2 linked regions of the Homo sapiens genome follow. The protein of the gene in region 2 interacts with the protein of the main gene of each other region in a pairwise test. Each region holds a gene or a part of one and is shown on either strand. Other genes may lie near its edges.

Evidence for each region.
Region 1: the proteins of UBAC2 (region 2) and LMO7 interact in a two-hybrid assay, tested with the Homo sapiens proteins (one large-scale study listed by IntAct).

What each region holds. Positions count from the first base shown.
Region 1 is NC_000013.11:75,807,330-75,810,829, reverse strand, and holds part of LMO7 (LIM domain only protein 7), read right to left. Parts: intron 3,351-3,500; coding exon 2,631-3,350; intron 1,677-2,630; coding exon 1,647-1,676; intron 1-1,646.
Region 2 is NC_000013.11:99,378,544-99,382,574, reverse strand, and holds part of UBAC2 (ubiquitin-associated domain-containing protein 2 isoform 1 precursor), read right to left. Parts: intron 1-4,031. UniProt on the Homo sapiens protein: Restricts trafficking of FAF2 from the endoplasmic reticulum to lipid droplets.

The sequences.
Region 1 (3,500 bases), about 24 Mb from region 2:
GTCATATAATTTACCCCTCACTACAGGGAACACATCCAGCCACTGAAATGGTTGTACATGTTGACATTTCCACCACATACTTGTACTCTGGGTACTTTTATTTCCTTTAAGAAAAGCAACTATTTCTGAGAGCTGCTTACATTATAAAGTTATATTTAATTTACAAATGAAAATTTTTCTGAAAGTTACAATTCAACATGCTTAAAGCTGCAAAGAGATTTTTAATCAAGTTAAAACAGCTTTCCTATGACTTGAGAGTAGCAAATGTTTAAGCATCATGCAGATGAGCTGGAAAGCGGATAATGTGCCTTTGCATGGCACACGGAAAGCATGCAGGGACCCTGGTTTTTAAAATCAGTGGCTAACAAGTACTTGCAATTTGTTGCCTGTGGCTCAGTTACACCTTTGGCATCTAGAATGGTTATACTGCTTTACATTTAGTAGCTTCCAACATTTCTGAATTATCAAAGTTATAAAAAGCTATCAAAACTAGAGATTCTTATAGATGAAGTAAATCCTCATAAGGGAAGATACTTAGCTACTGAGGCTTGAGCAGATTAAAACATCTGTCATCCTTTAACTCTCTTCCTCTTGCTCAAACACTATTAGCCCTTAGATTCACAAAGTTACAGAAAGTTTGGTGGAAAATATTAAGATATAGCCACCTTGTGATTTTGTACTAAGAATGAATAAATGATTTACTGTAAATGTAGTTTTTGCCTGTAATCCCAGCACTTTGGGAGGCTGAGGTGGATGGACCACCTGAGGTCAGGAGTTTGAGACCAGCCGGACCAATCTGGTGAAACCCCGTCTCTACTAAAAATACAAAAATTAGCAGAGTGTGGTGGCATGCAACTGTAGTCCCAGCTACTCAGGAGGCTGAGACAGGAGAATTGCTTGAACCTGGGAGGTGGAAGTTGCTGTGAGCCAAGATTGCGCCACTTCACTCCAGCCTGGGCGACAGAGCGAGACTCCATCTCAAAAAAAAAAAAAAAAAAAAATGTAGTTTTTGCAACAGTGATATTAGAAATTAAAAATATTTTTGCAGTTTTTGAAGGTCTATTTTGCACTATAAATATAGCCATGTTATAACTTTTTTTTCCTAATCAGGAATCTTGAAAATATAATACTTCCAAATACCACCTAGGGAAGTTTAATGCATCCCTACTAACGAAGCTCCCAGTTGGCCGATTATAGGATAATGTCAACTGGGTGTATTCTAAACTTGAAGTAAATGCTAATATTCTTTTTCCATCACAGATTTTCTAAAATGTAGTAATTTGGGCTTTAGCATCCATAAATCAGAATTTTAGTCTATGTAGCAACCAAATACCAAAATACATATACCTAATCTTAGGCAAGTGCTTTTGTGACTTTTAATCAACTCATTAAATTTTTAAAAAGGAAAAAAGAAGGGATGAAGCTGAAGTTTAAATTTTTAATAAAACAAATAATTTTATCTTGCACTGGGCACCAAGACACAGAAATATTACCATTAGGTTGCAAGATAAACATTTCCCACTTAAAAAATATCATGCACAGCACACAACAACCCCATTTAGTGACATGCCATGCCAGAAATACAGTAAGTTATACAAAGAACAAACAACACGCACAGATTTTTTACTGTGAACCACACAACTTACCCATTCTCACCATAAATCTTTTGAAAGAGTCTAAGAAACCAGAAAACCAAAAATTAAAAAGTCATTTTTCCCAGTCATATTAGTTTCTAAACGTTCAATGTCTTCCACTTAAGAATCTAACTGGAGACGGACAAATCTCAAAAGGTCACTTCTTCCATCACATTCTTGATCATGTCTCAAGTTCTCATCAATTTCCTATCTCAGGAAATTCAGATTAAGCAAAATGAAGAATTTCCTCAATTTACTCTGAGCTAACAAATCCATATGAAAAGGCTTCCCATTGTCAGGAACTGTTAAGTTAGATTTGGATCCTCTAATTTTATTCAACCTAATCAGATTTGTCCATCTCTAAGTTCCACAAACTGAACATTCATCAAAAAGGCAAGTTGCATAATACAAACTATCAAAATGGCCATGATTACATACACATAAAATTCAGCAGACAACAAATACCATTCATGCATTTTAACATCAACGTTTACTCTGAACTTCATAAATAAAAATAAGTTACAAATGATAGTCCAAGAAACCTAGGCCAAAACCAAAAATTAAGTTAAATGAAATTTGCAATGCCATATTTTAAGGGAAAATTTCACCCCCCCAAAAAAATCAGACACTCTAAAATGTGAGCAACACATAAAACCAAACTATAACCAGACTGTTACAAAAATGCCTGAACATGAGAAGTCCAGAAACTTCATATTGGTGGATAGTACCACAGTACTGCTTAAGTCAAAGGCAAGGTTTATGTATATACAGTCTTAAACAGGCCTAAATAAGTTATTTAGAGATATGCAAATATGGAATTGCACTTTTTGTACAAAACGACTGAGGGTTTTTCAAAGCAAATTAAATTTTACGGGATGCTTCAAAATGGCACGCGACATGCAGAGTTGAGCAACACGATGAGCTGCTTTCTCGCATGAGAAAAGTTACACAAGACCATCCATTACAAGCAAAATCCTTGCAGAAACACACTCTGACCTCTCCACCATCAGCCTTTTCTTGTGCCTAAGTCTGCTGGCCTCCCGGATGGCCTCCCATCTCTTCAAGTCAGCCTCACTGCAGGGGCCAGGGGTGAAACTGATGGGAGGCACGGTAGTTCCCAGTTTCCAGGACTGAATCTTACGTGTCAGCATGTCATCTTTCTTCTGCCGATATGAAGGAACTAATATTCTACAGCTATTACTTTTTTCTTTGGATGGGCATGTCCTTTCAAGTACACAGAGAAATTTTGCTTGAATTTCTGGAGGAAGAGTCCAGGGTTCGGGAAAAGGGACTGGGTGGTATCTATCTGGGGCCCCAGACAGCGGCACTTCTTTCTTCTGTGCTGGAATTCGGCGAACAATCATATCATCTTTTTCCAAATCCGGAAGTACAAGTTCACCTTCTCTACACTGTAAAATTATATCTCGCTCTACAGAATCATCTTGCTCAGAGAACTTTCTAAAGTCTTCAAAAGCTCGGAGAACATATGGATTTGCATGGAAAGCCCCAGTCTTTCTGACAAAGAAATCATCATTCTCTAAGTCAGGATCCAGGGCTGCCATCTCGAGGTCATCTCTTCTATAGCCTGGTGCATAAGAGAGATTCTTCCTGCGGGTTATGAGCCTTGGGCCAGAAGTGGGATCAATTTTGGTATGTGTTTCAGAAGACAAGATGTCATCAGAGTATGTTTGGAGGGCCTGAAGCAGTAAAAACTGACTGATGCACAGAGAGGAAAAAGGAAAGAGAATCTTATTAAGCTTAGGGAGAAAAGGTAATTAGCAGATCGACTAGCCAAAGGTGATTAGCAGACCAACTAGCCAGTTACTGAGGGTAAATCATTTTAGAGGACCATTGTGGGGACTCTTG
Region 2 (4,031 bases):
ACACCGCGCCCAGAACTGAGTGTGACACCACGGGTGTGGTCTCACCAGGGCAGTGAGGCCACTGCCCTCCAACAGTCTGGGCCCTTAGCTTCAATGAGAGCAGAGGAATGCATTAGTAGTGTGCATATGTGTTGTGTGTGCCTGTGCATGCACTTGTGTAAGGAGCTGCATCACTGGTGTGGCCAGTTAAGCTGGGCCTGCTGAAAACACTCAGGAATTTTCACATAAAATGCTGTCAAGTCAGGTCTCTCAAATCCTACCTGACCTTTTAAGTCTAGGACTCTACATATCTCTGTTAAATTCCATCTGATCATTTTCCAGTCAACCAAAATGAATTATTTTCAATTCTCATTTTGTTATCTACTGTTAATCATCTCCCTCAAACTTGTATCATGCCTAAATTTGATTAGTAAACCTCTACAACTTTGTTCAAGTTATTATTGATGAAAATGTCAAACACGTCAGGTCAAAGAGCCCAGAACTCTGTGTTCAAGGGGTTAATCAACATTTTTAATCAGTTTCAAACCCACTTCATTGCACTATCATTATCCATTCTGCATGTCACCAACATCTCTCATAAGCTGATGAGATGTTGTCAAAGGTCTTGGTGATCTCTTGCCAACAGGATTGGTTTGGTGTCCTAGACCACAGCTGTCTTTTCAACGTTCACAAACCATCTATTTGATAATAATCTGTTTAAGCTTTTGCCAGATGTGAAACTTCAATTCTGCCACTTGGTTCTCAGAATTCACACTTTCCTTTTCCTTAGGAACATTTTCAAGCTAAGTGTTCCTCCCTGTGCTTTCTCAAGCCTCCATCAGGTTGTGCAGGGAGAGGGGCTGGAGGACTCAGGCTGGATATGTGTCATGTGGAAGGAAAACTCTCTCTGATCAAGGTGGTCTTTCCAATCTTGGGTGGAAATAACCTGTATGATGTTCCCTCCAGTTAAGGACCATTGTCATTGGTGGAGATAACTCAGGCCAAACGGGAGCTGGCCTGCCTTCCTTCCACCTACTATCCACCACCATGATGCCATGGCCCCCAAACAACTTGGCCACTCTTAATGACGTTTATTTAAACGGCTTGGAAAAGCTACCTTTACTACTACCTGTAGTACTTCAAGTGCAGCTGAGGACTGGCTGCTTCTTTGCACCCAGCCAGCACAAACGAATCCATTTGCTGTCCACACTCAGCAATTTGGAGATCTGGCAAATGACGATTCATAATCTGGAGTGATGAAGTGTGACTTTAGGCCACAGCTCCACCTGGCACTTGAGCTCTCCCTCCACTGATGATACATTTGGTTTGGAATCCACAGGATGCTGATAATGGGCTGGCTACACACAGGTCACCAACACAGGGCAGCAGCATGGACTGCATGCAGGCCCTGCCCTGGAGAGGGAAGAACCCCTTAGGTCTGGGATGGCTGGGCTGGGTTGTAAGTCACGTAGGTGACATCCTAGAGTAAGAACGAAAGCTTTCTATGTACACGAGACTTCCTTCTGAGTTCATTCTCTCAGACATGAACGACATGTGCCGCGGTGCTGGTTTTGACAACTAAGACTGGCTTTTCACAGGTCTTGGCAGAAGAGAGCGTCTGCTGTCACAGCTTGCAGCGGGCTCGCTCTTCATCCTCTGCGGGGCAGATCATGCCCCTTTAGCCAAAGCTGGCTTCAGAGCTTTAAGTGATTTTTATGGGTGAGAAGACAAGTGTGACAGGAGAACTTTCACTGCCCACTGACCTGTTATTTTCACCAGATTAAAAACTATTGCTAAGTAGCAATAATGTTAGCACAGTTCTTTAAAAAGAATAAACAATTACACTAAGAAAGGGCACCTGAAGGTTTCCCATAGTGTCCAAAACTAAACATCCATGGCAAACTGAAACTGCATGCTTGGGCTTGGGTATGCGATGACAACCAGCCAGCAAGGACGAGAAGGGTCAGGGGATAGGTGTTCCGATGGGTGCTTACCCAATACTCCCCAGTGGAGGGGTGCAGTGCAGTGCTCACAGCCGTGCAAGTTAGCCAAGTGGCCCCTGCTGTCCTTTCTTTATGTAGTTTCAGAGGTTCACCATATAGACAGTAAGAACTGGAGCAAAAACTAGCAGCACAGAGAACAGTTGTCTGTAGGGCTCTTTGGTGGACACTAACAATTACTGCTGTGGCTCTCACTATTCCTCTGCTCAGAGAAGCCCAGCACGCCCAGTCCCCACACATCTCATTACGGTCTCTCCTGGGAAAGCTTACTCGGCATGTGAAGCATCAACTCCTGTGCTCAAATTACAGAAAGACGAAATTGAGGCCTGCGCAGACGTGCAGTCAGGTAAGCAAAACACACGTTAAGCATTCCTAATCTGAAAATTCAAAATCGAAAATGCTCCAGAATTTGAAACTTTTTGAGTACCAACATGGCAGTACAAATGGCAAGTTCCACACCTGACCTCATGTGATGGGCTGCAGTCAAAATGCAGGCCACAACATGTAGTTTATTCAGTGTCTCCAAGGGAAAAGAGACCCTCTCACCCTCCTTCAGCTGTGACATGCCTTTTCTGCACATGCCCCGACTCCCCCACGCAAGCACATGCCAGTGGGCAGGTTCCCCACAATGACCTGCATGGGGCCAAAACCCACGTGCGTCACTCACTGTGCTTTTTTGCTTACTTTCTGCTCTGTGTTATAAAAATGTTGTTAAAATATCTAAAAGGTGTGCAGATACCCTCTGGGTAACAGTGATAAGAAAAAGATTTATGTTTATCTATAGCACAGAAAGTCAAGCTGTTGGAGAAAGTGGAGAGCAGTGTAAGTGTGAAACGTCTTACAGGAGAGTATGGTGTTGGAGTGACCACCATATAGGATCTGAAGAAACAGAAGGATAAACTGTTGAAGTTCTGTGCTAAAAGTGATAAACAGAAATTAATGAAAAATAGAGAAACACTGCATAAAGCTAAAAATGAAGATCCTGATCATGTACCGAGGATGGATCCCTTGGTGTTGCAGTGAACACCTGCCACTTAATGCTATGTGGGTCAGGAAACAAGCAAGGATCTATCAGGATGAGGAACTGAAAATGAAAAGGAACTATGAATATTCAACATGTTGGCTGCAGAAATTTAAGAAAAAACATGAAACCAAATTTTTTAATGTGGTGACAAAGCATCATGAAGCAGCAAAGAAATTCATTGGTGAGTTTGCCAAGGTCATTGCTGACAAAAATCTGATGCCAGAACAAGTCTATAATGCTGATGGAACATCACTGTTTTGGTTTTATTGCTCCAGAAAGACACAACTACAGCTAATGAGACAGCCCCTCCAGGAACTGAGGACATCAAGGGCAGAACAACTTTGCTGGGATGTGCTAATGCAGCAGGCATGCATAAGCGTAAACTTGCATGACAGGCAAAAGTTTGTGTCCTTGCTGTTTTCAAGCAGCGAATTTCTTACCAGACCATTATTATGCTAACAAAAAGGCATGTTTAACTAGGGATATCTTTTCTGATTGGTCTCACAAACATTTTGGACCTGTGGCTTGTGCTCACTGCAGGGAAGCTGGGCTGGATGATGACTGAAATATTTTGTTATACCTTGACAACTTTTCTGTTCATCCTCCAGCTGACATCTCATCAAAAATCATGTTTATGCCATGTACTTTTCCCCAAATGTGACTCCATTAATTCAGCCATGTGGCCAAGGTATTCTTAGATCAATGAAGGATAAATATAAAAGTACCTTCTTGAACAACATGCTAGCAACAAATGAATGGGTATGGAAGATTTTCAACAGGCGTTTAGCGTGAAGGATGCCACACATGCTGTTGCCAATGCATGGAACACAGTGACTGAGAACACAGCTATGCAAGCCTGACACAACCTCTGGCCTGTGCTATGTTCAGTGATGATGACGAACAAGGTGGTGACTTTGAAGGATTCCACATGTCAAATGAGGATAAAATGATGCCTGACCTCCTAACAGGTAAAAAATATACCTTCGAGTCTGTCAGTAAGCCAGAAGAAGTGGATATTGAAGTTTTTA